7 separate regions of the Homo sapiens genome follow, and all the other regions are linked to region 2. The links come from fine-mapping of genetic effects on gene expression. A gene starts in region 2. Each other region holds a variant in brackets. All regions are shown on one strand. Distances are between the middles of the regions.

Region 1 (4,726 bases), 370 kb before region 2:
AGATGCATTTTTTTTTTTTCTAATTATTCAGTTCCACTGGGGCACTCTGTTGTTGTAAATAACCCATTTATCGTCATCGACTCTTTTGGATTTTTCCCAGAACTAATTTCATTTTTGAAATAGTTTCTCTTCTTATTGTTTTGAGCAAATACTGAGCACCATTATAGATTTATTTTTGTTTGTCTGATAGATGCTACTATTAAAATTCTTTTATATGATTGGAGATAGAATTTATTTCCATGACTTCAAAAGCAAGGGTGATAGTCACTCTAAAGATTACCTCCCAAGTTTAGAAGTTCATTTAAAAATAGCTCTACAATGTATTGAAAACCCATTTATTCAGCCATCATTTGTTGAGTTACCCAACTAAGAGCTCTGTGGATGGCAAGGGTTATAAATGCCGAAAAAATGTGGTACTTGCCCAGGATTTGCACTCCACTGAGAATCCAACTATAATTGCCAACATTTTCCACTTCTGTTGTTTTAATTATTTCAAAATTCAGTAACTATAGGCATCCTGAAACAGTATGCATTCCCTTATATTGCTTCGAAATCTCATATCACCTTTTTGACTACATTTAGAAGGCACGAAGTTTGGACCTGGAAGCACAGGTCTACTCCTCTCCCATGGGAGACCAATAGCAAATGGAATCCAATGGAGCAGCTGCGACTATCACTTGGAAGCCCTCTGTGAGCCACTAACCCACCACTTCTCCTTTGTGGCTTCTTTTGAGCTTTAGATTTGTCCAGCAAACTACAGCATTTAAGCTCTTTCCTATTTTTTATTTCCTTTGATTCTTGTAACAATCCAGTAAGGCAGTAAGATTAGGTGTGTTCACCTCATGCTACAGATAAAAAAACTGAGGCCCAGAGATGTTAAGTCACTTGCCAAAAGGTCACCCAGCCAGTAAGTGGGAGCCTGCAATTCCAAGCCCACTGAGATCTTCTCTAGCTGCTTTTATCACCACTACTGACAAGTCTGCTGTTTCCAAGCCTTCACAATGGCTATTCCACAAAGTTGACTTGATCATTTCTGTGAATGCTTCTTTGGCCTTTTTCATGATATAAGCAGAAAGCTTTAAGTTTGAAAGGCATTTCCAAAAATAACGTTTACCTTATCTTCTTCAACTGCACTTTCAACTTACTCTCTGATCTGTTTCCATCTTTGGACGTTTCTGAATTTACACAAGCAGATGAGGAAAGCCCTCTGCCTCCCCATGGATAGATGAAGACATGCAAAAATGTTTTTAAGGCCACTCTTTATATAACAAAATGAGACGGGGGAAAAAATCTGTCTGAGATACCATTTTCCTGAAAGGTCAGATCCTACTTAACTTGTTAACAACCAAAAACCTGAACTCAAATATCATCCACTAAAAAAGAGTTCTTCCCAGTGAAAGAATAAGTAGCTTTCATGAGTCTAAAATAGCCAAGGACCTTCAGACATGAAAGAAGAATGATATTTGGGAGCTAAAAGTAAGGCTAAGAAGCAATGGATACATGTGAAAAATTTGCAGTTTTCCCAGTGAAACCAATGAATTGCTCTAGCTTTACTCTTTCCACGTTCCTTTTAAACTGAGAGGGCAGTTTAAATTGTAGAATGCCAAAGTCAATTGTAAATAGCTTCCTATTATAATACACATTTATTGGGAATATCCAGTCCCCCTAAATTTGGTAGCCTGGAAGGGTTTCATGAAATACTCATTGCCATGAAAAAAACACCTAATACACCCCCACCCCATTACTGGGGCCGTCTAGCCTGTGTTCAACTCCCACTGAAATCACCAAGTCAATGAGAGAAATTAAAACCATTTTATCCACAGGTGTACATTTTTGTGCAATTATATGTAGGGGGTTAAAAACGGTGTTCGGTAGAACCCCATACATAATCAAAATTGAAGAAAAATCAGTAGCTATTTTAGCATAATAAGGAAATGCAAATTTAAGAAAGAAAATTTTCATTAGCACATTTCCTTGGTGAATAGGTACTAAAATATATTTGAATGCAGGACACCCCACTGTTTGGGGAGCTTCACACATAAAAGGTGTGAGTTACAGCCAAATTTCCGGCTGTTTTTTGCTTCTCAGTTTCTACCCCTTAAAAGCTGATGGAGATAAATCTGGAAATATTTGAAAAGTATCACATTTGAAAATTATTTGATATCTTACC[G/A]TCTTGTACACTCTTTCCTTATGGTGAATTGCCTTGACTGCCTTTTATTACCAAGGGTATTTGTTGGATCACAGAATCTTTATTTCTTAAGAGATATTTGCTGCTTCTACTTAAGTCACAATCCTTTGTCACAGGACAATCATTTCCACAGCAACCAACTGTGATGTCACAATTGAAGGGAGGAGGACCCTTAGGAAGGAAAGAAAAAGAGAATGTACTTTTCAGGCTAAGGTTTCTGGGTTTTAAAACCATCACTTCAGAAATCAAAATATTTTAGCAGAAAAACCCCCATGAGAAAGCTTCAAGGTCTCGGCTGTGACAAAGACAACATTTCAGTAGAAGTTTAAGGTTGCGTGTTGTGGGCTTGGGAAGGGGTAGAGATCTTTATTTCCTTTCATTCTAATTCTGTGCCACTGATACCTGCCAGTAAAATACATGAAACATATTCCAGAAAGAGTTGATTTAGTAGATGAAAAATGCGTCTCCCGAGACCAGAGAAGGTACCTTTTCTGTCTTGCTATCATTTCCATAATAGGAACAATGTTTACATTTCCTCAGCCCATGCAGTGCCTCTAATGTATTCATGTTCTTTCACTCTCCAGAGGCAGGAATTGAGGTATTAGAGATTTTATTTTTTAGCGACTGCATCAAGCACTTAAGATCTGACAACTGTGATGTGTATTCTCACTTGGTATTAAAAAATAAAAGCTTCTGTGTTTGCATTTGATTAGAGTCACTCAGCTGGGTGGCTGATTAAGCAGGAATAGCGAAAGCACCTTCCTTCAGAAACACTGAATCCTGGTTAATGTAGTGTAAGATTACGGATGGGTGTAGTCACATAATTTTTATTAAATTGAAGAGATTAGCTCTGCTGAAAAATCCCACTGTGACAGCAAACTCTAGGTGCAATAATGGTACCTAACACTTCTCAAACCCACTACAGGGCCCCAAATGGTCTTATTTCTGAATCTTCTTTCAGTTCCAGTGAGAAAGCTTCATTCAAATATTCAGGATAGTTACCTGAAATTGAGTTTGCACTGTTTTTTTTTTTTTTTTTTTTTGAGAGGTGATGCAAAATCAGCACAAACATTTGTAGTCTGTGAACTTTAGCTATATTCTCTCAGTGTAAATAAAAATGACACACACTCTCTTTCCTCTAGTTGCTTAAAAGGCAAACACTTTTCCCCAGACGGAGGCTCCGGTGGCCACAAGGGGGCCGTCGGAAAAGATCCCAACTGGAAGCCCAGAGTGTGTGATTTGTTTGTCTAACATGCATAAAATTGTTGCCTCTTCCTCCAGACTCAGGATAACTTGGTTATCCCAGTTCTAGGAAGGGAAGGTTAAAAAGCCATAAAGAAGGAAAGAAAGATAACTTTTGAAAGCCAAAACCTCCCATATTCCCTGGAGTGAAGCAGAGTAGAAAGTGCAGGTACTGGAAAGAGTGAACAGCACTTTTCTTTCTTTCTTTTTTTGAAACGGAGTCTCGCTCTGTCACCCAGGCTGGAGTACAGTGGCCTGATCTCCCTTCACTGCAACCTCCACCTCCCAGGTTCAAACAATTCTCTACCTCAGCCTCCGGAGTACCTAGGATCACAAGCCCCCGCCACCGCGCCTGGCTAATTTTTTTTTTTTTTTTTTTTTTTTTTAGTAGAGACGGGGGTTTCACCATCTTGGCCAGGCTGGTCTTCAACTCCTGACCTCGTGATCCACCCGCCTCGGCCTCCCAAAGTGCTGGGATTACAGGCGTGAGTCACCGTGCCCGGCCTGAACAGCACTTTTTTAGACAACAAAGAAGGCTACAAATGGAGTCCATTTACATACTGCACACGAGGGGCTTGGGGAGGATTAATTGGTTAATGTTTGGCAAGCTGAGCTTGGAAGACAAGTTGTGCAGAGGTGCTGTTGTCACTTACTACTGTTATTAATTAACAAGGTGAATGCCAAGCAAAAACAAGCCTCGGGGTGTGCTTTCATTTCTTAACGCCATATGCGATGTCTATTGCAGGAGTGATTCGGGAAAGTTACCTCAAAGGCCACGACCAGCTGGTTCCCGTCACCCTCTTGGCCATTGCAGTCATCCTGGCTTTCGTCATGGGGGCCGTCTTCTCGGGCATCACCGTCTACTGCGTCTGTGATCATCGGCGCAAAGACGTGGCTGTGGTGCAGCGCAAGGAGAAGGAGCTCACCCACTCGCGCCGGGGCTCCATGAGCAGCGTCACCAAGCTCAGCGGCCTCTTTGGGGACACTCAATCCAAAGACCCAAAGCCGGAGGCCATCCTCACGCCACTCATGCACAACGGCAAGCTCGCCACTCCCGGCAACACGGCCAAGATGCTCATTAAAGCAGACCAGCACCACCTGGACCTGACGGCCCTCCCCACCCCAGAGTCAACCCCAACGCTGCAGCAGAAGCGGAAGCCCAGCCGCGGCAGCCGCGAGTGGGAGAGGAACCAGAACCTCATCAATGCCTGCACAAAGGACATGCCCCCCATGGGCTCCCCTGTGATTCCCACGGACCTGCCCCTGCGGGCCTCCCCCAGCCACATCCCCAGCGTG
Region 2 (4,662 bases):
TATAATCCCAGCACTTTGCAAGGCCAGGGAGGACAGATCACCCGAAGCCAGGAGTTCCAGACCAGCCTAGCCAACATGGTGAAACCCCATCTTTACTAAAAATACAAAAAATTAGCTGGGCGTGGTGGCGGGTGCCTGTAATCCCAGCTACTCAGGAGGCTCAGGGAGGAGAATCGCTTGAACACAGGAGGCGGAGGCTGCAGTGAGCCGAGATGGCGCCATTGCACTCCAGCCTGCGCAACAAGAGGGAAACGCCCTCTCAGGGAAAAAAAAGAGAGAGAGATTAGCCCGCCTCAGCCTCCCAAAGTGCTGGAATTACAGGCATGAGCCACAGCACCTTTCCTGTAATAATCAACTTTAAATGATGTGATGAGAACAATTCTATACTGCACCATATTGGATACAGTTTACTGATGTAGCGGTGTTCCCCAAGACACTGGTATGAGGAAAGAAACTGGCGATCAGAACCAAAGTGAGGCAGGAAAATAGGGTCAGGAGGCTGGGAACATAAAGCTGATTCCCACTTCAGCTATGACAAGAAATGTCCTCTCCATATGGCATAGGCGGAGAAAATGACTTTGTAACTTTACTTCATCCTCTTCATTTACATAGGGAGTACACCAAGTAACCAATGGAATCCTCTAGAGGGTATTTAAATTCCCAAAAATTCTGTAGGGGCCCTTCAGCCCCTATGCTCAAGCAGCTCCCACACTGTGGAGGGTAGTTTCATTTTCAATAAATGTCTTCTTCATTCTTTCCTCGCTTTCTTTGTGCGTCTTCTCCAGTTCTTTGTTCAAGACGCCAAGAACCTGGACACCCTCCACTGGTAACAAAAGGAATCCAGAAAGAAGGAAAAACTTTAAAATAACTCTTTTCTTCTGAAAGATTTCTACCCAATCCAAGCACAAAGAAATTACTTCCGAACACTATTTTGCCTATATACTTCAGTACTTTTTCTGTATCCACACGCTACCTGCACTATTGCTTATTTTTTCACAAATTGAGTCTTTTTTTACTTAAATAATGTTAAAGGGGAGCTTTATATCACTACCATGGACAACCAACTTTATCTACCATAAGTAGAAATTAACTAAAAATCTGTTTAAAATGCAAATAAAAGCAAATGCTACCAAAGCCAGGCTAGATTCTTCTACCAACCAAAAATTCGGTCCCCTATTCGATACTGATTTAAAAGGGGTATTAACACATGTTGGCTATTAAAGACCCTCCAGCAGCAGCGTGAGCCTTTCCCACCAGAGTGTCTGAACCGGAACTGAAATCGGAAACGGAATACCGTTCCACGTGATTCGGCAGCACTGAAGGCAGCACCCGGGAACTTCTGATACCAAACTCCGCGAACAGTGACGCAGACCCCACGCTTGCAGACCACACGCTTCCGTACAGACCTCAGCTGCCAGGCGCACTGTGAGCCCCACAGGTGGACCACCGTGACTGTAGAGGCGCTACACGGCCCCACGCACTCCGCAGACGCAGCGTCGCAACCTCGGCAGCCCACCCCACCCCACCCCACTCAACCGGGCCCGCCGCGGCGCCCAGGCGGCAGGCAGCAAGGACAGCCTTGTGCGAGCCCGATCTGGGCCTTCCTGGGCGCGGCTACCGCAAGAGCTTAACGGATCAGCTACCTGGGGCTCTCCCGTAGGATCAGCGCCGCGGGGACCGCCATCTTCGGCTTTCTCGCACTGCCGCCGTCTGTTAGCTGCGCCGAACCCAGCCAATGGCGGCCGCGGCGGACGGAAAGCCGGAAGGCCCAAGCCGCGCAGGGGCCGTTTTAGGGCTCCGGGTCTCCTGCGACCCGGGCGCCGGGAGACTTGTCCCGCAGTCCTGGAGGGCGGAGAGGGCAGCCCAGTTGCCCTCCCGACACTCCAATCGTGTTGGAGTTAAGTCTGTGCATATATATGTCTTTATATTTATATATTATATATGTATGTACATACCTGGATAGGGGTGTGTGTCTGTATTTAATAGGGCAGGTTTAAGCAAGTCTATGTACAGACCTGTATAGATATATGTGTGTATGTTCGTGCATAAATATATACATTATTATTTTTAATAGGGCAGGTTTAAGCAAGCCCGTGTATACATACTTGGATAAATGGTGTGTGCGTGTGTATATTTTTTTAATAGGGCGGGTTTAAGTGAGCCTGTGTGTACATACTTGGATAGGTGATTTGTGAGTATTTTTTTTTCCAGCGTTTGGGCTACAGAGAGGCAGGCATTTGAGCGAGCTCCCCCGAGCCTGCCCAGGAAGCGGCGCATCACCCCTCAGGAGAGGTGGTGCCTCCAGTTCCACCCTAAGCACTGTGCCGTCAACCCCTCCTGTATCTGCATCTGCAGGGCTTGTAGTATGTACGTTCAATTCCTTCAGCAACGTTCAATGAATGAGTGCCTACTGTGTACCAAGCACTGTTCTAGGCACTGGAGATACAAAAGGCCAAAATTCCTGCCCTCAGGGTTTGCCGGCAGTCTAAATGGACAAGTATTTGTTGCACCCTTCTTTAGAGTCTGACAGTGCAGAGTAGGGGAGATGAATCGCTGCAGTGAGTGATGTCAAAGACCTCACCCAAGACTAGGGAGACACCATGTTTGCATAAATACCTTGGTCTGCCTTTGAGAAAAACATGGAGTGAGTTAAAGGAATTCAGATGTGGGAGCAGTGAAAGGCATCCGAGGTAAGATCAGGAAAAGCTCCCTAGGGCAGGTGGCAAATGCGGTGGGTCTGCAGAGATGTGGAGGGTGAGGCTGTGTGTTTCAGGTCAGTAGAGTAGAAGGGCGGTTTGACGTTTGAAGAACAGGAATTTAGACTAGAAAAAGCCTTTAATGACTGGTTGTGGCATGTGCACTTAATCTGGTGAGAAATGGGTAAGCATTAAATGTTTTTTCTATCCATTAAATGTTTTGAACCAAAGAAATTTTGCAGTGGGAGTTGGATTTTTGAAGGTTGCTGTCAGCAGAATGATGATTGAAATGGAAAGAGGTAAGCAGGAGAGCTACCTGGAAACTACTGCAATAATCTATAGAAAGCAGTAAAATCCTGTGGTACTAAAAAGGCATTGGTGAATTAAAAGATAGTGGATGGATTAGTTACGTTTCAGCAGTAGAATATTCAAGAGCTGCCAAAAAATTGAATTTAATTTTCCTTCCTAATTATGTTTTACTTAAATTATTATTTAAATTAGTTGGAGTTCCTGGAGCAGCCCAAGAACAACCTAACTGAAAGGAGAAACCAGATTGCACATTAAATCTGAATAATCTCCACATGGATAATTGAGTCAATTATACAGTGTGTTGAACACATACAAATACATTTAGTTCCACAACACTCTACAGTCCCCAATGTATGCATATCTGAAAAAGATGTATGTGAATCTACATAAATTATAGGTCTCTGATCCAAACACAGATGACCTCATCTGCAACTTAAAAGGGTCCCAGTTCCCTCATTCTTTGAATCATTTCCCTTTTGTCTTGATTCCTTACCTGAAGTAGAACCACTAACCAACTAAAACTGTTTCAAATCCCTAATGAAGTTCACCCTCTGATTGCCTTAAAAATATATAGCCAGAATTTTGAGCAAAAGAGCATCAAGATGGCTCAAATCCCAAATCCATGTAACCTTGGACAAAGTACTTAACCTCAACAAGTTTCTCATTCCCAATCTGTAATGGGGATGAGAATAATGTCTGCTCCCTTGGATCTTAATGAGATTTAAATAATGTGGTACGTATGTAAAAGAAACATTCTACCCTCCTTAGAAAACAAAACCCAGACCTCTTAGGTGTTCACAAAAGCAAGTCTCCAGTGGACACAGAGGCGACTCACTCTAATGCTCTTCATTTTCAATGATGGGCTGATTACTTCTTATTACCATGTTTCTATAAAGGCGTGATGCTGTGAATAGTTTCACACCTCAAATGAGAACCTCACCCAAGATATTTCTGCATTCTCTGGAATATAGACATCTATGTCCATGAAAAGTCCTTTTAGTTGTCTGCTATTATTGTGTGGGAGTCTTAAGTCTCTTCGTAGGTCTCTAAGAACTTGCTTTAGAATCTGGGTGCTCCTATATTGGGTGCATATATATTTAGGATAGTTAGCTCTTCTTGTTGCATTGATCCCTTTACCATTATGTAATGCCCTTCTTTGTCTTTTTTGATCTTTGTTGGTTTAAAGTCTGTTTTGCTAGAAACTAGGATTGCAACCCCGGCTTCTTTTTGCTTCCCATTTGCTTGGTAAATATTTCTCCATCCCTTTATTTTGAGCCTATGTGTTTCTTTGCACACAAGATGGGTCTCCTGAATACAGCACACCAATGGGTCTTGATTCTTTATCCAATTTGCCAGTCTGTGTATTTTAATTGGCGCATTTAGCCCATTTACGTTTAAGGTTAATATTATGTGTGAATTTGATCCTGTCATATGATACTAGCTGGCTATTTTGCCCATTAGTTGATGTAGTTTCTTCATAGTGTCAATGGTCTTTACATTTTGGTCTGTTTTTGCAATGGCTGGTACTGATTTTTCCTTTCCATATTTAGTGCTTCCTTCAGGAGCTCTTGTAAGGCAGGCTGGTGGTGACAAAATCCCTCAGCATTTGTTTGTCTGTAAAGGATTTTATTTCTCCTTCGCTTATGAAGCTTAGTGT
Region 3 (4,726 bases), 210 kb before region 2:
CAGAATTGTCCCACATCAGTGAGGAAAGCCTGTTTGTAGGCAGTGTGTACAGGAGTGTGTGTGTGTGTGTGTGTGTCTATGTGTGTCTTTAATCAAGATACTCTTTTCAGCAGGAAATTAAAATCTTCTGGGTAATGAGCTCAGAAAATCTATACACACTGAACATATATTTCAGTATAAGAATGTTGTTGATGTCTCTCTGGAGCACTTCATTTTGACCCTATCACATAAAACAACTCTGAAATTGCTAGGAATGTAACTGTTTTCAGTCTTGCAGCATCAGTACCCAGAAGCATGTGTAGGTCAACTTCATGACTATCATAAATCTCTTCACAGCAATGCGAGAACTTGCTCTAGCCTTCTGGAGGGCAGAAATCTGGGTCTCTGGCTGGTTATAAGGCTTTTATTCTCATGTTTATCTCCTGGATGATGAATAAAAGGATCAGTGACCTCAGGAGATACTCCCTAGAAGGGATGTGGCTATTCCCTAATGGAATTACCAAATACCAGCATAGCTGGCTAAACCAGTTTGAAAACTACTTTTGTACAACTTTAAGTTTACAATTATTTTAAGAATTTAGATAGTACTGTGCAAATAAATGGAGAGAGCCCAAGGCAGAAAAAAACTACATACTCTATTAATTCATTCATTCAGTATTTCTAAAGCACCCCAATGTTCGTAGAACTACTTGCAGCAGCATGAAAGAGAGTAAGAAGCTGGACTGCAAAGTAGAACACATGGTCTGGAATACACAAGTCACCTTTTCTCTGATCAGCTGGAAATTACTCTGCTCCTCTGTCAAAGCATAAACACATTCTTGGGATGGAGAGGAATGCTGGAGCTTCCAAGGTTGATGTGTTAAAGCAGCCTTATCCAGGGGACAGCAGCTTTTTCCTTTGTCCCCTTATGTAGTCTGGTTGAAACTGCAGAATAATTTGAAATGTGGACTAAAAATAGTGCACAAAGGAAACTTAGAAATCTCAGAAGGAGAGATGAGGAAAGGCCTTGAGAAATCACTGCACTCCTTGCCTTACAGCAAGTCTATATTTATCATAGATTTAAAAAACTTTATTATTGACTTTCCTTTAAAGTTTTGGGTAGAATGTACAGTGTTTTTAATTTTTATTTGCCAATTAAAAAAATACAAACATAAGTCAGAAAAAAATAAATGCAACTATTAAATTTACTATTAACTGCTTTCCTTTACCTAGATTTTTTGAAGGAAAAATCTTTAAAAATCATTAAAAAATCAGGTTCTCATTAAAAGATGCTAAAAATGACTGAACTCTGGTTTCACTAAAAGAAGATTATTATATATTCATTATTTTTCCTGCCTTGGAGATTGAAACAGTCTCTCTAAGCCTCTAGCACCATCTTCCTTACAGATTTGTTGACTGGACTGGCTTCACCTTTCCTGTCTTTGCAGACTACTTCTTTTGAAATAAAAATCAGTAACTTTCCATTTCAAATAAAACAAAGTAGGCTATGAAAACTGCCATCATTTAGATTTGGATTGTAGGCCTCCATAACAGCTAGTACAACCTTATAGTTCAGAGAAAAGCAAAAGAGCTTCAAAAATACTTCAGGAGTGTGCATATGGCGAGATGGGAGCAATGGTTAAAAATCCTTAAAATTCTCCAAAATTAAAAATGCCATTAAGCTTTACTATAAAATACCTCAAATTAATGTGTTCCTAATTTTAGCATTAAATGAAGCTGGTCTATTGAGTAGGACTATTTGCATAATGATGGCAAAAAAAAAATCAAAGTTTTAGGGAAGCAAAATTGATCAGAAATTTAAATTATAATTCCTGAGTAGCTTCTGACTAATGCATCTGAATAAATCAGAACCATCCCAGTCCTCTTATTCAACAGTAGAAAAAGAATTATGGAAAGACTTTGGGGGAAATTTACAATATACCCTTATGGTTTCTCAAAACATTTGTCTCAAAATAACCACACTGAAGGAGGGAGGTGAATATAGGTTCCCAGTAACACTGAGAATTTAGCCTGAATTCGCAGGCTGCAAGCACAAAGGTTTTGTTCTGTTTTTTAAGGTTTCCCATTTCCTCTTTAACATTTATATGCATTTTGCCATAAAATGTAAATCTCCATTTTAAAATATGTTGTACATTACTGGCCAATTATAATAAAATTATGTTGCCACCATATTAGTTAGGCTACAGGCAAACGTGCTGTGTATAGCCTAAACTGACCCCAAATTTAATAACTCAAACAAGATATTTTATTTCTGTCAAGGGCATGGAGACAGCTGTGTTCTATAAGTATATTCAGGGACCCAGGTTCCTTCCATCTTGTTGCTCCCTACCTCTTAAGCATTAGCATTCTTGTCTGCTCAAAGCTGACTCAGCTCCAAATCTGGGTTTCAATCACAGAAAG[A/G]GGAAGACAACTGGAGATGAATGATCACTTCCATTCACAATTCATTAGCAACACTTAGTTCCACGGCTGCAGTAGCTGCAAAAGAGGATAGAAAATGTAATTTCTTCTACTTCTGGCAAAAAGTAGAAGTGATGCTATTGAAATATATACAACGTCCATCTTACGACTTTTTGTGTTCCCTACCAACTACTTTATTTCTCTAGGGATGCTCCGGTTTAGAGAGCATAGTATAAAGCAGGGTTCTGCATCCTTTCTTTCTATAAAGGGCCAGGTTTTAGGCTTTGTGGGCCATATGGTCTCTGCTGCAACTACTCAACCCTGCTGTTGTTCAAAAGCAGCTACAGACCATATGTAAACAATTGAGCATGGCTGTTGTTTTAGTTATCTATTGCAGCGTAACAAATTACTACAAAGTTAGAGGTTTAAAACAACAGAGTTATCATCTCACAATTACCATGGGTAGAGTTCAAGCATAGTTTAGTTGGGTCCTTTGTTTAAAATCTCACAAGGCTGCAATAAGAGTCAGTTGGACTGTGCTCTCATCCAGAAGCTTAACAGGGAAAAAAACAAAACAAAGCCAAACAAAAAAACGACAAGAAAACCCATTTCCAGGCTAATTCAAGGTTGTTCGCAGAATTTATTTCATAGAGGCTATAAGGCTAAGGGCCTCAATTTCTTGCTGGCTGTTCTCCCTCAGCCCCTAGAGGTCACCCTCAGTTCCTTGTCATGTAGCCCTATCCGCAGCCTCTCTTATAACATGGTATTATTTCTTCAAAGCAAGGAAGGGAGAAAGTCTCAAGAGTGAGTTTGGTAGCAAGACAACTGTGTTCCAATAAAACTTTATTTACAAAGACAAGTGGTGGGTCATGTCCATCATTTGCTGATCCTTGGTATAATGAATAAAGTGTAGAAGACATTATTTACGGTAAGAAGAAATCAAAGTTCACTGAGTAGAGAAAAAGATTTCTCAGAGCCAGAAGAGCCACGTGGAAAGGTACTCAGAAGAAAGTATTTTTTTCATTCTGGTCCCATAATACATGTATTACCTCATTTTTTAAATAAAAAATAAAAGCAGAATTGGCATTGTGTTAGAATCTGTGATTATAAAATGGAGTTGTTATTAGAATGCCAAATAAGTTTAAAGTGAAGGGGCTTCATAGCAAGCTTTCTACAATTTTGACTCTAATTCAAACTTCACCTGGAAAAATTTCAACAGAGAGTCTGCTTATTTTCTTAATGATTATAAAAATGTCAGCTAATGCTTATTATATGATTGAGATTCAAGGATTATGCTAAATGTTTAACATGAATTTCACTTAATCTTCAAAACACTCATGTTAGTTAGATTATTATTCCTATTACAAAGATAAGTAAAGTGAACTTTCACAAATTAACTTGCTCAACACACACACACAAAGTAGAAGAACAAGGATATAACCTTTGCACTGTCCTGAGAAACCAGATCGTTAAATTTTACTTAATGTGTAATAGGATCCTTTGAAGGGTTTTAGGCAGGGAGATGGTATAATTAATAGGTTATTTTTTAAAAATTAGCTCTGTACAACGACTGGACTGGAGGAGGGCTAGAATGGAAGAAAGGTGGTCCAGGGCAAAGTTGATGGCAGCTTGGACAGGGTAGTGCCCTGGAGATACACTTGCAATACATTTTGGTGGTAAAAACGACAAAACTTGTAAGAGAATGGCTCCCTGTCTACCTAATTGTAGTGCACTCCACTATGCCATCTGTTCACTACACTCTAGCCACACTGACCTTTTGGTTCCTGAAATGCGCTAAGCCTTTCCCATCCTCTGAGATTTTGCATGGGCCATTCTCTCTAGAATGCCTGTCACTCTATTCTACTATTGTGCCATCTTAACTCATCATATTGGACTCAGCTCAAATCTCACTCCTCAGAGAATCCTTCCTTGATGCCCCAGTCCAAGTTTGGTTCCATCATTAATTTTCTCTGAATAGAATCCAATTATATTTTGTCCCATATTTGTTCATTTATTCCATATTTGTTTACTTTTCACTAACACATTACATTTCAAGAGGCCAAGAACTAGTTTTGCCTATCACTGTAAACATGGTACCTAGCATACACAGTTCCTGCCACCATATTCACCATACTCAGCAGTGATTACTTGTTGAATAAATAAATGCCTGACTTCGAAGCCCTTACACTTGAATACTGAGTTATTGGCTCTCATATTTGATTTTTAAAGAGATTTCCTTTTCAATCCTTCTATAGTTATCAAAGTGACATATCTCAATATGTCCCATCACTCTTCCTAAACAAACACTGACCTCAGGTTATAAAAAATG
Region 4 (4,000 bases), 86 kb before region 2:
ACCACTAAGCAAAATCTTATTTTGGACATCAACCACCAGAAACTGAGTTTAAATATGATAATTCACAAAACAACGGACAGATTTTTTTATTATAATTTAAGTTCTAGGATACATGTGCAGAACATGCAGATTTGTTACATAGGTATACACGTGCCATGGTGGTTTGTTGCACCATCAACCCGTCATCTACATTAGGTATTTCTCCTAATGTTATCCCTCCCCTAGCCCCACACCCGTGACAGGCCCCAGTGTGTGATGTTCCCCTCCCTGTGTCCATGTGTTCTCACTGTTCAACTCCCCCTTATGAGTGAGAGCATGCAGTCTTTGGTTTTCTGTTCCTGTGTTACTTTGCTCAGAATGATGGTTTCCAGCTTCATCCATGATGCTGCAAAGGACATAAACTCACCCTTTTTTATGGCTGAATAGTATTCCATGGTGTATATGTGCCACATTTTCTTTATCCAGTATATCATTGATGGGCATTTGGGTTGGTTCCAAGTCTTTGCTATTGTAAATTGTGCTGCAATAAACATACACGTGCATGTGTCTTTATAGTAGAATGATTTATAATCATCTGGGTATATACCCAGTAAGGGGATTGCTGTATCAAATGGTATTTCTGGTTCTAGATCCCTGAGGAATCGCCACACTGTCTTCCACAATGGTTGAACTAATTTACACTCCCACCAACAGTGTAAAAGCATTTCTATTTCTCCACACCCTCTCCAGCATCTGGTGTTTCCTGACTTTTTAATGATCGCCATTCCAACTGGCGTGAGATGGTATCTCATTGTGATGTTGATTTGCATTTCTCTAATGACCACTGATGATGAGCTTTTTTTCGTATGTCTGCTGGCTGCATAAATGTCTTCTTTTAAGAAGTGTCTGTTCCTATCCTTTGCCCATTTTTTGATGCAGTTTTCTTCATGTAAATTTATTTAAGTTATTTGTAGATTCTGGATATTAGACCTTTCTCAGATGGACAGATTGCAAAATTTTTCTCATTCTGTAGCTAGTCTTTTCACTCTGATGATAGTTTCTTTTGCTGTGCAGAAGCTCTTTAGTTTAATTAGATCCCATTTGTCAATTTTGGCCTTTGTTGCCATTGCTTTTGGTGTTTTAGCCATGAAATCTTGGCCCATGCCTATGTCTTGAATGGCATTGCCAAGATTTTTTCCTAGGGTTTTTATGGTTTTAGGTCTTATGTTTAAGTCTTTAATCCATCTTGAGTTAATTTTTATATAAGGTGTAAGGAAGGGGTCCAGTTTCAGTTTTCTGCACATGGCTAGCCAGTTTTCCTAACATAATTTATTAAATAGAATACCCTTTCCCCATTCCTTGTTTTTGTCAGGTTTGTCAAAGATCAGATGGTTGTAGATGTGTGGCATTATTTCTGAGGCCTCTGTTCTGTTCCACTGGTATATATATCTGTTTTGGTACCAGTACCATGCTGTTTTGGTTACTGTAGCCTTGTAGTATAGTTTTAAGTTAGGTAGTGTGATGCCTCCAGCTTTGTTCTTTTTGCTTAGGATTGTCTTGGCTATACGGGTTCTTTTTTGGTTCCACATGAAATTTAAAGTAGTTTCCTCTAATTCTGTGAAGAAGTTCAATGGTAGCTTGATGGGGATGGCACTGAATCTACAAATTACTTTGGGCAGTATTTTCATTTTCACGATATTGATTCTTCCTATGCATGAGCATAGAATGTTTTTCATTTGTTTCTGTCCTCTCATTTCCTTGAGAAGTTGTTTGCAGTTCCCCTTGAAGAGGTCTTTCACATCCCTTGTAAGTTGTATTTCTAGATATTTTGTTCTCTCTGTAGCAATTGTGAATGGGAGTTTGCTCATGATTTGGCTCTCAGTTTGTCTATTATTGGTGTATAGGAATGCTTGTGATTTGTGCACACTGATTTTGTATCCTGAGACTTTGCTGAAGTTGCTTATCAGCTTAAGGAGATTTTGGGCTGAGACAATGTGGTTTCTAAATATACAATCATGTCATCTGCAAAAAGAGACAATTTTACTTCCTCTCTTCCTATTTGAATACCCTTTATTTTTTTCTCTTCCCTGATTGCCCTGGCCAGGGCTTCCCATACTATGATGAATAGGGGTGGTGAGAGAGGGCATCGCTGTCTTCTGCCGGTTTTCAAAGAAAATACTTCCAGCTTTTGCCCATTCAGTATGATATTGGCTGTGGGTATGTCATAAATAGCTCTTATTATTTTGAGATACGTCCCATCAGTACCTAGTTTATTGAGTGTTTTTAGCATGAAGAGGTGCTGAATTTTATCGAAGGCCTTTTCTACATCTATTGAGATAATAATGTGGTTTTTGTCATTGGTTCTGTTTACGCAATGGATCACGTTTATTCATTTGCATATGTTGAACCAGCCTTGCATCCCAGGGATGAAGCTGACTTGATCATGGTGGATAAGCTATTTGATATGCTGCTGGATTCAGTTTGCCAGTATTTTATTGGGATTTTC[A/G]CATCAATGTTCATCAGGGATGTTGGCCTGACATTTTCTTTTTTTGTTGTGTCTCTGCCAGGTTTTGGTATCAGGATAATGCTGGCCTCTTAAATGAATTAGGGAGGAGTCCCTCTTTTTCTATTGTTCAGAATAGTTTCCGAAGGAAACTCCTCTTTGTATCTCTGGTAGAATTCAGCTATGAATCTGTGTGGTCCTGGGCTTTTTTTTGGTTGGTAGCCCATTAATTATTGACTCAATTTCAGAACTTGTTATTGGTCTATTCAGAGATTCATCTTATTCCTGGTTTAGTCTTGGGAGGTGTATGTGTACAGGAATGTATCCATTTCTTCCAGATTTTCTAGTTTATTTGTATAGAGGTGTTTATAGTATTCTCTGATGGTAGTTTGTATTTCTGTGGGATCAGTGGTGATATCCCCTTTATCATTTTTTATTGTGTCTATTTAATTCTTCTCTCTTTTCTTCTTTATTAGTGTGGCTAGAGGTCTATTTTGTTAATTCTTTTCAGAAAAACAGCTCCTGGATTCATTGATTTTTTTTTGAATGAATTTATTTTTTGAATTGGTTTTTCATGTCTCTATCTCCTTTCGTTCTACTCTGATCTTAGTTATTTCTTGTCTTCTGCTAGCTTTTGAATTTGTTTGCTCCTGCTTCTCTGGTTCTTTTAACTGTGATGGTAAGGTGTCAATTTTAGATCTTTCCCGCTTTCTCCTGTGGGCAGTTAGTGCTATAAATTTCCCTCTACACACTGCTTTAGCTGTGTCCCAGAGATTCTGGTACATTGTGTCTTTGTTCTCATTGGTTTCAAAGAACTTTTTATTTCTGCCTTCATTTCGTTATTTACCCAGTAGTCATTCAGCAGCAGGTTGTTCAGTTTCCATGTATTTGTGTGGTTTTGAGTGAGTTTCTTAATCTTGAGTTCTAATTTGATTGCACTGTGGTCTGAGAGTCTGTTATGATTTCCATTCTTTTGCATTTGCTGAGGACTGTTTTACTTCCAATTATGTGGTCAATTTTAGAATAAGTGCGGGATGCAGTGCTGAGAAGAATATATACTCTGTTGATTGGGGTGGAGAGTTCTGTAGATGTCTATTAGGTCTGCTTGGTCCAGCGCTGAGTTCAAGTCCTAAGTATCCTTATTAATTTTTTGTCCCATTGATCTAATATCGAAAGTGTGGTGTTAAAGTCTCCCACTATTATTGTGTGTGAGTCTAAGTCTCTTCATAGGTCTCTAAGAACTTGCTTTATGAATCTGGGTGCTCCTGTATTGCGTGCATATATATTTAAGAAAGTTAGCTCTTCTTGTTGCACTGATCCCTTTATCATTATGTAATGCCCTTCTTTGTCTTTTTTGATCTTTGTTGCTTTAAAGTCTGTTTTATCTGACACTAGGACTGCAATCCCTTTTTTTTTTTTTTTTGCTTTCCATTTTCTTTGTAAATATTCCTCCATCCATTTGTTTTGAGCCTATGTGTGTCTTTGCACACGAGATGGGTCTCCTGAATACAGCACACC
Region 5 (4,000 bases), 28 kb before region 2:
CACTGGGACCAGTAGCCCCACTCTCCCATCATGGCAGTACTTCAGCAAAGGTGTTGTCACCCCTCATGCAAGCATTTCATAGGACAAGCCCAGGCTTTCCCAATCCAGATTTACCCAGCTTTGCCCTACTCTCTGAGACACAATGCAGGATCTGGACTTCTGGAGGTCCCACAGTCCAGCCCACTGCCTGAGACACCCAAGCACTTCTCCCAGGGGACAGAGTTTGGGCATAAAAACCCTGCCATTACTCTCTCGGTTGGTTTCTATCTGCAAGTGCCACCCAGCCTGGAGGTCAGCCCACACAGCCAATTGCAATCACTCCCAACACAAGGGCACTGGGGAGAGCATCTTACCACTACTGCTGCCACCATTACTGAGGCCACCCAGCTACCCAAGAGCTCATGAGCCCACTCACTTGCCCAGTACACTGCTACCACAACTGGTATCCAAAAGAGCCACCCAGAGCCCCCAATAATCAGCCTGCATGGAACTGCCAACTCATGTGCCAGCACACACTGCCCTAGATATAGACCTGCTTAGACAACCACTGCTACCACTGAAACCTGAAGAAGGACCTATCAAGCATTCCAGTCCCTAGCATAATTTCACCACATCCTCCATCAAAACCCACACCCTAACACACAAAGGAATCCACAGATACCAATAACAATATTTATAGCCAAGAATATCATAAAGTATTCACCAATGCGCACACCCAGAAATAAAAACAAGTGGCCCTACTCAACCAACATCGAAGTCACATATAAAGGAGCAAAGTCTACTCCAAACAAAAGTTAAATTGAAAAAAAAAGCAATTGTTCCAGATGTGCTAGAATGAACATAAAAACACAAGAAACATGAAAACGCATGGCAATATGACACCATCAAAGGAACACAATAATTCTCCAACAATAGAGCAGAACCAAAAAGAAAACCTTACAACCCCAAAGAATTCAATATTTTGATTTCAATTAAGTTCAATGAGATACAAGAGAAATCTGAAAACTAATACAAAGTAATCAGAAAATCAATTCAGGATATGAATGAGAAATTTACCAAGGAGATAGACGTCTTTAAAAAAATCCTGGAACTAAAAAATTCACTGAAGGAGATATAAAATACATGGAAACTCCAATAATAGACTAGGCCAAGCAGAAGAAAAGATTTCAGAACATGAAGACAGGTCTTTTCAAACAGTGCAGTCTGATAAAAATTTTAAAAATAAGAAAAAAATGAACAAAGCTTTCCAAGTGTTTAGGACTGCATACAGCATTGAACTTATGAATTACTGGTATTCCCAAAGGGACAGAAACATCAAAAATCTTTAACAAAATAATAGATTGAAAAACTCCCAAGGCTAGCAAGAGATACAGACATAATAGATACAGGAGGCTCCATGATCTGCAGGCAAATACAACATAAAAGGGACTTCAATACAACATATTATAATGAGTGTCTAATGTCAAAGTGAAAGAACAAATTCTACAATCAAGAGAAAAGTGTCATCTATAAAGGAAAGTCCATCAAACTAACAGCAGACTACCCAGCAGAAACCTTACAAGGCAGGAAAAAATGTGACGACATAATCAAAGTGTGAAAGAAAACAACTGTCAGCCAAGAATTGTATATCCAGGTAGTATTAAGCTTCATAAATAAAGGAGAAATAGTCTTTCCCAGACAATCAAATACTGAGGGAATTCATGAAAACTAGACCAGTCCTACAGGAAATGCTCAAAGAAGTCCTAAACTTGGAAGAGACAGGACAATATTTATCATTGTGAAAACACACAAAAATATAAAATACACTAGTAAAGATATCATACAAAGAAGAAGAATCAAATGAAACCATTACAGAATTCCAACAAACCATAAATTTAGACAGACAAAAAACCCAAAAGTTTACAAAATGATGAAAAAAACAATATGACAGGAACAAAATCTCATATACCACCTCAAACATAAATGGATTAAATGTCCTACTAAAAAATACACGTTGGCTAAATGAATAAAAAAAATCAACTATAGGCCATATAGCGGTGGCTCATGCCTGTAATCCCAGCACTTTGGGAGGCCAACACAGGCGGATAATGAGGTGAAGAGATAGAGAACATTCTGTCAACATGGTGACAGTCTCTACTTAAAGTACAAAAATTAGCTGTGCATGGTGGCGC[G/T]CACCTATATACAGTCACAGCTACTCAGGAGGCTGAGGCAGGAGAATTGCTTGAACCTGGGAGACGGAGGTTGCAGTGAGCTGAGATCCCGCCACTGCACTCCAGCTTGGCGACAGCACGCGACTCCATCTCAAAAAAAAAGAAAAAAAATCAACTATATGCTATTTACAAGAAACCCACCTTATCTGTGAAGACACATAGACTAAAAGTAAAGGGGTGGAAAAAGATATTGATTGATATTATGGGCCAACGAAAATCTAAAGCAAGCAGAGGTAGCTATATTTTTATCAGATAAAGCATACTTTAAAATAAAAATAGTAAAAAATAATGAAGTCATTATCAGTCAAGAGTTCTACATCGAGAAATATCAAGCTCCATAAATGAAGTAGAAATAATCTTCTTTCCCAGACAGATTATTAACAGAATACTAAGAGAATTTGTCAAAAGTAGACCAGCTCTACAAGAAATGTTCAAAGGAGTCCTAAACTTGAAAGAGACAGGGCAACCCCATCAAGAAAACACAAAAGTATAAAACCTGATATTAAAGGTGTCAGTTCTACAAGAGGACATAACAATTCTAAACATACATGCACCCAACATTTGAGCACCCAAATTCATAAAACAAATATTACTAGACCTAAAGAGAGTTAGACAGAAAAACAATAATAGGGGACGTCACCATCTCACTCACAGCATTAGACAGCTCACTGAGACATAAAATCAACAAACATCAGACTTAAATTGGACTTCAGACAAAATGTACCTAACACACATTTATAGAACATTCTATCCAACAACTGCAGAATAAATACTCTTCTCATCAACACATGGGATATTCTCCAATATAGACCATATGTTATGCCACAAAACAAGCCTCAACAAATTTTTAAAAATCAAATCATACCAAGTAACTTCTCAGACCACAGTAGAATAAAACCAATACCAAGAAATCAATATCAAGAAAAACTCTGGAAACTATACAAATACAGAAAAATTAAACAATATGCCCCTGAATGACCTTTGGATCAATGAAAAAATTAAGGAGAATTAAAAAATTTTATGAAACAAATGAAACTGGAAATACAACATACAAAAACCTGTAGGACACAGCAAAACCAGTGCTAAGAAGGAATTTTGCAGCAATAAATACCTGCATCAAAAAAGTAGAAAGATTGCAAATTAACAACCTAACAATACATCTAAAGGAACTAGAAAAGCAAGAACGAACCAAACACAAAATTAGCAGAAGTAAAGAAGTAACATGGATCAGAGCAAAACTAAATAAAACAGAGACCAAAAAAAAATTAAAAAATTAATGAAACAAAAAGCTCGTTCTTTAAAAAGATAAGCAAAATTGATCAAGTGCTAGCAAGACTAACCAGAGGAAAGAAGATCCAAATATAATAAGAAATCAAAATGGAGACGTTACAAATGATATGAGAAAAATTCAAAAGATCATCAGAGACTATTATGAACAACTACATGTTCATAAACTAGAAAACTTGCAGAAAATAGGTAAATTTCTGGAAACATATAACCTGATATAGTTTGGATGTATGTTCCCATCCAAATCTCATATTGAAATGTAATACCCAATGTTGGAGGTGGGGCCTGATGGGAGGTGATTGGATGATGGAGGCAGGTTTCTCAGGAATGATTTAGCACCACCCCTCTTGGTATTGTCCTCACAATAGTGAATTCTCTTGAGATCTGGTGGTTTAAAAGTGTGTAGCACCTCCCCCCTTCCTCTCTTGTTCCTGCTCTGACCATGTGATGGGTTTGCTCCCCCTTCACCTTTTGCTATGATTGTTTTGTTTCTCAAGGCCTCC
Region 6 (4,726 bases), 220 kb before region 2:
ATTGTTAAATCATTAGTCATCATGGTAATGCAAATCAAAACACACATCTTCTAGAAAGCTAAATTAGAAAGACTCACAATACCAAGTGTTGGTGAGGATATGGATCATTAAGAACCCTCATAAAAGCATGGTAGGAATGTGATATGGTACAATTATTTTGGAAAACAGTTTAGCAGTTTCTTATAAAGTTAAACACCTTCCATACGACTCACTCTACTCCTAGGCATTTCTATAAGAGAAATGAAAACATGTGTCTTCCAAAAGACAGAAACGAATTTTCACAGAAGCTTTATTCATAATAGCCCCAAACTGGAACGAATGCAAAAATCCACCAATAGATAAACAGACAAATATTTTGTAATATATTCATATAGCAGAACATTATTTGGCAATGAAAAAGAACACACTTTGGATACACACAACAATGTGGATAAATTTCAAAAATACACTGAAGAAGCCAGACACAAAACAGTACATACAGGATGCTTCCCATTAACATGAAGTTCTAGGACAGGCAAAGCTAATATATGTGTACAATGACAGCACATCAGCTGTTGTCTAGGGATGGGGTAGAAGAGACTTACTACAAAGGAACACACAGAATCTTTTGAGATGGTGGAAGTGTCCTTTCTCAATTTTGGTGGCAGTTACATGAATCTGTATAGACATTTTTCAAAACTTACTGAACTGCACAGTTAAAATGATTCATTTTATTATATGTAAATTAAATCTCAGCAAAGTTGACTAAATCTCAGTCTTTCATATTTAGTTTTCAGAGAGACAGCTGGATTTTAACATCCAGGATGATGCATTGCAATGGAGCAAGCTAAGCCATTCTAAGGCCTGAGCCTTACTCAGCTGCTAGACCAGAGTCCTGGGACTACCTTTCTCTTAAACTCAGTGACATCCAAGGTCCAGAAGTCTACTATTCTGAATCTCTCTGTAACAGAATCCTATATTGGTTATTAAGAGAGGATGGCAAGATTTTGACTAAAATAGAAGTCTCAGAAACACTCATTCTATTTTATGGAATTAGGTGTTGCCCAATTTAAAAACGAACAAAAAGAAGTTGCACGGAGGGCTGCTGTATTCCCAGAGTTTAGCAGTGTCTCTTAAATGAATAAAACAAAAGTAAAAGAAGAGTATTCCTGGAGAAAACCTTAGATCTCTAGAACAGTATATGTGCAAGGAATGAGAGACACAGGGAAGAAGAGAGAAAGAAAAATAGTGGCTTTGTTGAAAACCATCAGGCCAGAAAGCATCTCAGGACTGGCTCTTAGAGCAAGCCCAGCCTACAAAGTGTATAGCCTAAGTAAGTATGTCCAAGTCCTGGAAGTTTGCTTCCTCACTGATTTAATAGAGCCATCCTCACTGCAGCAAATTCCCCAGTGAGGGAAATTTTATTTCCCATGCACCTGCAACTCCCAATTAGATGTATTCAGCTAGAGGTGGTCTGAAAAGTATAGCTCTCATTTCACAGGAACTCCTTGCAGAGCATCTGGCCTCTGCTAAGACACTTACAGGCTGGTCCATTTTCTCTGGACCCACGTGTCTCTTGCTTTCCAGCACAGAGGCGTATGCACATCTCAAATCAGTTAATCAGCATGCACTACTTCCCAATGACAGCCAACAAAGACATTCTAAACATGGTTTGGCTTAGTTCATACAGACCTTGCTACATCTACATTCATCTTTGGCTCATATGTGACCCATCTGTTGATGAAAAATTACAGTGTGTCACATACACCCATACATTCATTGTAGGATTCAGGCTAGAAGTCATGCTTTTGGGGATGTGTCAGAGGAATATGTGGAACAAATTCTGTTGGTTCTTCCCCACTTAATGAAGGATTCCATGCCTTGAATCCCTGGAAAAACATCTGACCAGAAATAGGAAAATGTCCTGATAAGTAAACCAACATGATAAATGAAGATCATTAGCATAATTAAGCTACAGATTTTGGAAAGGAGTGCTAGAGAGGCTTTACATATGGGTGTGAGACTACATTAGAGAAATGATGGATACTTTGAGCAGGGGTAGGACAGGTAACATTTTGCTTTGCCTACAAGGCTTGAGATACTGTGGTTTAACAGGTCACTGATTACCTTGAGGGGCGTCAAACCCCAAATCTAGCATATTTGACAGACTGCTAGCTGTTTTCCAAAAGGTAATAGCATTGGCAGGGGAATTTCTTGGATCCCAAACATGGACTCCTTTAGAACTACTAGGTAAAGGATAACCACATTTTAAGGTATTTTTTTTAACCACTTCCCGAAAT[G/C]GCAGTTTGCATTACCACCCCTTCCTGCCCCACTTGGAGAAGCAATGCAATATGTAATGTCAAGAGTTTAGACTGAGGATTATAGAATCTGCTCTCTACTCTTGGCTCTGCCAAGAAGAGGGCTACATGACATGGGACAGGTCATTTGTCCCCTCTGAGCCTCAGAAGTGATTAGAGTACTCTGTATTTCCCTGGTTCTTTCTGGGTCTTTCTGTGTTGTTTTCATTCTTTCCTTCTGAATGTTCCCTTTGCTTGTCCTCTAACAGCAATGATTCACTCCGCCTCCCAGTTGGGGCCAATTCTGCTGTTTGACCTGCAGTTGGAGCCAGTGCTGCTTATCCCAGTCAACATTATTGATCAACATTACTGAACAAATAAGTGATCACATACATGAACAAATTTTTGACTCTTTCCTCTCAGCATGCTGGACCTCTCAGTAGGCTGTTATTACATCTCAACAAATAGGGGTGTTAAAATTAACTTAAATTGTGCTCAATTAATCAGAACTTATTCAAGACTTTTTGTGTGTCAGGCATTAAAATAGGCAGGTGCTTGTAGTGATGTGAGATATATGATAAAGTCCTACCCATAGGAAACTTTACCTTGTCTGTGACTTCACACCAACATTTAGTGAGTGCATCAACTGGGGTCCAATCAGGAGACAGGAACCAAACAGTGATTTAAATAAGGGAAGCTTAATATAAAGAATGATTAAGCTGGCTATGCACGGTGGCTCACACCTGTAATCCCAGCGTTCTGGGAGGCCAAGGCAGACAGATCACCTGAGGTCAGGAGTTCAAAACCAGCCTAGCCAACATGGTGAAACCCGTCTCTACTAAAAATACAAAAATTAGCTGGGCACAGTGGCACACACCTGTAATCCCAACTACTTGGGAGGCTGAGGCAGGAGAATCACTTGAACCTGGGAGGCAGAAGCTGCAGTGAGCCAAGATCACGCCACTGCACTCTAGCCTGGGCAACAGAGTGACAACCTGTCTCAAAAAAAAAGATTAAGCTATAAGAAAACAGTAACTATAAGATGTAAGAGAACTTTATAATGTTCCACAGGGCTGAGGGAGAGTGCTCAAGGAAGGATGGAAGGGGATCTTTCCTCAAGGCTCAGGTTCTTATCTGGTTGCAGAAGGTCTAGTTGCACTTCAATGGATGGAAGAGAGGTTTGCTGGCTTGCTCATGCCAGAGCTGGTTAACAGTCACTGAGTAAGAAGAAAGCTACTCTCTAGGAAGTACATGAGCCACAGCCAGATTGGGTATGCACAGATACTTTGGGACTATCACTGTTGGGTAGAAGGCTTGGCACTCCTAGTGTCCATGTCAGGAGGGCAAATCTGAGTGGCAGGGTACAAGTGAGTCACAACTGGTGAGGCAGGTGAGTGGGCATGCAGAGGGGCAAGAGGGCTAGAATTTCTAGTGTCTGTGTTGGGAGGGCTATGAGAAGGTGATCACTAGGATAGGTCAGGGCTGCAAGCTTACCAAGGGACTGTGTGCTCTGGCTGGGGCACAGTACCACCAGATGCACTCACACTCATACCAGTGACCAACAGTGCAGCTGCTGGAGCCTACAAGAGAAGTCCCTTCCTCCTGCAATATCCCTCCAGCACCCTCTACTTAGAAAGCTTAATATGGTGCTCACATAAAGGAGGACAGCTTAAAGGGATTCCAAACATTAACGGCAGAGAGAGAACTCAAGGGAAAATTTGGAGGGACAAAAATTGATAATTGGCACAGTGAAGTATTAAAAGAGCCTTAAACTAGGGATTAGACATTCTGAGTTCTAGTCTGAGTTCAGCTGTGTAATCTTAGGCAAGTGATTTAGGTGTCTTCGTTTTAGTTTGTTCATTTAGAAAATGGAAATAACACTTGTTCAATTAACTAAAGAATAATGCAAGGATCAAACGAGAACAAGCATATAAAAGGATTTCTATAAACTGTAAAGTGCTACACATTTCCAGTGGGTCATTGCTGTAGTAGTTGTATTCAGTTTTACACTTACCATCAAGCTGAGTAATGTTTAGCCTAGAATTAAGGCCAAAGAGATGAGCCCCTATCTTATTTCGAATCCCTGGCACCAAGCACACTTACTTAAACAAAATAAATAGGTTTGTCTTTCTTACTAGAACTACAGTTTAAAAAACTTATTTCTTGATGGATAGTCTCGTGAAGGTATTGCTGTGTCTACTCAATTATGACTAACCATAGTCTCTCAAGGGTGGCCCACACTAATCATTCTCCATTTTTCATCTTACCAGAATGCTGCTGGTGGAGTCAGCAGGAAAAGCCTTTCTGCCCCTGATCAACCTCTACCTGAGGACCTAAGGCAATGCTTTTATTGTAGATCCTGATATGCAAACAGAACTACAGCACTCCAGAAGTAACCTCATTTGACTGGCCTATTAGTTAATGGGTAAATACATGTGTAAATGAACGAA
Region 7 (4,000 bases), 110 kb before region 2:
GTACAGCAGCTTTATTTATACTTAGCAAAACTGGAAAGCAATCAAGATGTCTTTCAGTAGGTAAATGAATAAATAAACTGTGGTACCTTCAGACAAGAGATTATTTAGTACTAAAAATAAATGAGCTATCGATGCATGAAAAGACATGGAGAATTTAAATGCATACTAATAAGTGAAAGAAGAAAACCTGAGAAGACTTCATACTGTATGATTCCAGGTATATGACACTTCTGAAAATGTAAAACAGGACTGTAGAGGATTTTCCGTGTAGTAGAAATTATGGTATATGATACTACAGTGGTGGATGTACTGTCATTATACACTTGTCCAAATCCATGAAATGTATGACACCAAAAGTGAACCCTAATATTAACTAGGGTCTTGAGTGATAATCATATAGGTTCATCTATTGTGACAAACATATCACTCTAATAGGGGATACTGATAATTGGATAGGCTATGCATGCATAGGGGAAGGGAATATACGGGGGATCTCTATACCTTCCTATCAGTTTTACTGTGAACCTAACACTGCTCTGAAAAATAAAGTTTATTATTTTTTAATAAATAAGGTATGGTCATTCTATTAAAAATGACTTCCATAACAACCAATTATGTCAATACAATGTTTGCTATTCTTTATAGTATTAGGCAAAGTCAAGAGACTGGCTGCTAAAGGTGAACACCTATAAAAGGCATACAAAAAGGGAAAAACCAAAATGTACTTAGAAATTAAGCTCACTCTTCAGCTGTAACTAATATTAAGGTCTTTCTGCTTAAGAGTACAATGTACATTCCTGAGTATAACTTAAGGCTATAAACTGAGGTTTAAAAAAACAAAAATTATGTGTGAAGTGTGTATAAATGTAGAAAAATTATCAAAATAATCAAGACTGCATATGTGTAAGTGAGAGGAGACAGCAGGGAGGGTACATCAGTGATTGTAAAGCCTTCCAGGTAATAACCATAAGGAAAGCATCCATAGTTCTGGGCTAAACTGAACTGTGAATCTGCACTTAGTATTTCTACTTCTCCTACTGACTCAATATATAACCTAGGCAAGTCATGTAATCTCCCTGTACTTCTTTATGTGAACTGGAGTCTACTCAAAGGGTAACTGGCTATTTCACAGGGAACTATACTTTAATCTGCACTTTACTGCAGTGTCAGAAAGGTGAATAAAATGGCAGAATCCTTTCATGAATTTTCTGTTTCAAAGACAATAAAAATCTGGGGCCAGGCACGGTGGCTCACACCTGTAATCCCAGAACGTAGGGAGGCCGAGGGGGATGGATCACTTGTGCTCAGTTTGAGACCAGCCTGGGCAACATAGTGAGAACCTGTCTCTACAAAAAATAAAATAAAATAAAAATTAGCCAGGCTTGGTGGCACTCAAGTCCCAGCTACTCAGGAAGCTGAGGTGGGTGAATCACTTGAGCCCAGGAGGTAGAGGTTGCAGTGAGCCAAGATCACACCACTGCATTCCAGCCTGGGCAACAGGGCAAGATCATATCTCCAAAAAATAATTCTGTTTTCAACTCTACTTACAATTTGGCAAGAAACAGAAAAAAAGTACTGTAATTTCATGTATTGTTTGCGTAAAATATTAATACAATGACATTTTGCAAAGTAAAAAATGTTATCCTAGGTGTTAATTTCTTAGTAAGTCTTCAAAGCACACTACCACCAAATGGATGCTGAATGAATGAAATGAACTTTACAGTCTCTTCCAAAACTC[A/C]AGATTCTATGATTGTAATGTAGGCTATGCAAAATTTGATGAGGCAACCCCACATTAAAAAATGCCAAAAGGGTTTACTTTAGAATAAAATATTTTAAATATTTAACGGACAGAAACACTAAAGTTTCTTGATTATATACTTCTGATATAAATTACTGAAAATCTGTAAAAAGAAAATACTTACAAAGTTGTTATTTGTATGTAAGCACATACTGAAAGATAGGAATACATCGACAGAAATGCTCCTAAGCTTAATTTAGTAAATCATACATCACATTAAAACAATATCCATTAATTTTTAGGCTTTGTTCAGTGTCTTACTGATAAATTTGAAAATTAGTAATATGATGTCCTTTATATAGGAAGATAAAGATTCATCATTTAGAATATACTATATTAGTTATTTTTCCAATCATTATATAGACTGTGAAAAGCCATTCATATACACATAGTTAGTATTTCTGTGACTAACAGCATAAGGGATGTTTGAATATAAGCACATACTGCACACAGCCTTAAATAATAAACATTTTTCTTTTTTTAAAAAAAAAAGCACCAGTAAAACATTAACTCCATAATCCTGACTCTTTAATATCATGTGATAATAATCTACATTAACCAAAGCAGGAATCACAGAGTTAACAGATTTGGCTATTACTTTTTTTTTTTAACATATTTATTTTTCCATAAGTTACTGGGGTACAGGTGGTATTCGGTTACATGAGTAAGTTCTTTAGTGGAGATTTGTGAGATTTTGGTGCACCCATCACCCAAGCAGTATACACTGCACCATATTTGTAGTCTTTTATCCCTCACCCCCTCCCTCTCTTCACCCCAAGTCCTCGAAGTCCACTGTATCATTCTAATGCCTCTGTGTCCTCATAGCTTAGCTCCCACAAAACAGTGAGAACGCACAATGGTCGGTTTTCCATTCTTGAGTTACTTCACTTAGAATAATAGTCTCCACTCGTTGGTTGATGGGCATTTATTTGGGTTGGTTCCATGACTTTGTATTTGTGAATTGTGCTGTTATAAACATGCGTGTTTGCAAGTGTCTTTTTCAAATAATGACTTCTTTTCCTCTGGGTAGATACCCAGTAGTGGGATTGCTGGATCAAATGGTAGTTCTGCTTTTAGTTCCTTAAGAAATCTCCACACTGTCTTCCATAATGGCTGTACTAGTTTACATTCCCACCAGCAGTGTAGACGTGTTTCCTGATCACTGCATCCATGCCAACATCTTCTGTTTATTGATTTTCTGATTATGGCTGTTCTTGCAGGAGTAAGGTGGTATTGCATTGTGGTTTTGATTTGTATTTCCCTGGTCATTAGTGATGCTGAGCATTTTTTCATATGTTTGTTGGCCATTTGTTATATTTTCTTTTGAGAATTGTCTATTCATGTCTTTAGCCCACTTTTTGATGGGATTGTTTTTTTCTTACTGATTTGAGTAATATTAAACAATACTGATTCTACCCATTCATGAGCATGGGATGTGCTTCCATTTGTTTGGGTCATCTATGATTTCTTTCAGTAGTCTTTTGTAGTTTTTCTTGTAGAGGTCTTTGACTCCTCAGTTAGTTATATTCCTACGTATCTTACTTATTTATTTTTTGCTATTGTAAAAGGGGTTGAGTTCTTGACTTGATTCTCTGTTTGGTCGCTGTTGGTGTATAGAACAGCTACTGATTTGTGTACATTAATCTTGTATCCGGAAACTTTGCTGAATTCTTTTACCAGTTCTAGGAGCTTTCTGGAGGAGTCCTTAGGGTTTTCAAGGTAAACGATCATATTGTCAAACACTGACAGTCTTTCTCTTTACCAATTTGGATGCTCTTTATTTCTTTCTCTTGTCTGACTGCTCTGGCTAGGACTCCCAGTACTATACTGAAGAGGAGTAGGGAGAGTAGGTATCCTTATCTTGTTCCAGTTCTCAGAGGAAATGCTTTCAACTTTTCCTCATTCAGTATTATGTTGGCTGTGGGTTTGTCATTGATGGCTTTTATTACATTATGGTACGTCCCTTGTATGCCGATTTTGTTGAGAGTTTTAATCATAAAGAATGCTGGATTTTGTTGAATGCTTTTTCTGCATCGATTGAGATAATCATGTGATTTTTGTTTTTAATTCTCTTTATGTGGTGAATCACATTTATTGACTTGTATATGTTAAGCTATACCTGCATCCCTGGTGTGAAACCCACTTGATCATAGTGGATTATCTTTTTGATATGTTGTTGGATTTGGTTAGCTAGTATTTTGT

Direction of the effects. Alleles are on the strand shown, and positions count from the first base shown. SD is a standard deviation of normalised expression in the study named. Not every link is listed here.
As copies of C replace G in region 6, the expression in fibroblasts of the gene that starts at base 1,712 in region 2 goes up (small effect, 0.24 SD a copy in GTEx).

The links.
Region 1: its variant is fine-mapped to the expression of COMMD10 in whole blood (TOPMed, PIP above 0.99).
Region 3: its variant is fine-mapped to the expression of COMMD10 in whole blood (TOPMed, PIP above 0.99). The same link has a PIP of 0.9 or more in blood mononuclear cells, hypothalamus, lung, monocytes and skeletal muscle.
Region 4: its variant is fine-mapped to the expression of COMMD10 in whole blood (INTERVAL, PIP above 0.99).
Region 5: its variant is fine-mapped to the expression of COMMD10 in whole blood (TOPMed, PIP above 0.99). The same link has a PIP of 0.9 or more in lung.
Region 6: its variant is fine-mapped to the expression of COMMD10 in fibroblasts (GTEx, PIP 0.92).
Region 7: its variant is fine-mapped to the expression of COMMD10 in whole blood (TOPMed, PIP above 0.99). The same link has a PIP of 0.9 or more in blood mononuclear cells.

Annotation. Positions count from the first base shown.
Region 1 is chr5:116,447,261-116,451,986 of GRCh38, reverse strand. It overlaps SEMA6A (semaphorin 6A), which reads left to right. Exons shown (of 19, transcript NM_020796.5): 19 at 4,176-4,726. SEMA6A-AS1 (SEMA6A antisense RNA 1) reads right to left here and starts at 4,489. Exons shown (of 3, transcript NR_109879.1): 1 at 4,196-4,489; 2 at 2,170-2,359. The variant G/A (reference allele first, on the strand shown) is at 2,171.
Region 2 is chr5:116,082,075-116,086,736 of GRCh38, reverse strand. COMMD10 (COMM domain containing 10) reads right to left here and starts at 1,712. Exons shown (of 7, transcript NM_016144.4): 1 at 1,644-1,712. The coding sequence starts at 1,684. RefSeq lists enhancers at 1,171-1,465, 1,759-1,918.
Region 3 is chr5:116,295,996-116,300,721 of GRCh38, reverse strand. No RefSeq gene overlaps it. Among named protein-coding and RNA genes, the nearest start is that of MIR12130, 43 kb to the right of the region's middle. The variant A/G (reference allele first, on the strand shown) is at 2,401.
Region 4 is chr5:116,168,064-116,172,063 of GRCh38, reverse strand. The region is part of intron 5 of COMMD10 (COMM domain containing 10); the gene reads right to left. Among named protein-coding and RNA genes, the nearest start is that of COMMD10, 85 kb to the right of the region's middle. The variant A/G (reference allele first, on the strand shown) is at 2,486.
Region 5 is chr5:116,110,719-116,114,718 of GRCh38, reverse strand. All of the region lies in intron 4 of COMMD10 (COMM domain containing 10), which reads right to left. Among named protein-coding and RNA genes, the nearest start is that of COMMD10, 28 kb to the right of the region's middle. The variant G/T (reference allele first, on the strand shown) is at 2,172.
Region 6 is chr5:116,303,954-116,308,679 of GRCh38, reverse strand. No RefSeq gene overlaps it. Among named protein-coding and RNA genes, the nearest start is that of MIR12130, 51 kb to the right of the region's middle. The variant G/C (reference allele first, on the strand shown) is at 2,280.
Region 7 is chr5:116,194,916-116,198,915 of GRCh38, reverse strand. All of the region lies in intron 5 of COMMD10 (COMM domain containing 10), which reads right to left. Among named protein-coding and RNA genes, the nearest start is that of MIR12130, 59 kb to the left of the region's middle. The variant A/C (reference allele first, on the strand shown) is at 1,739.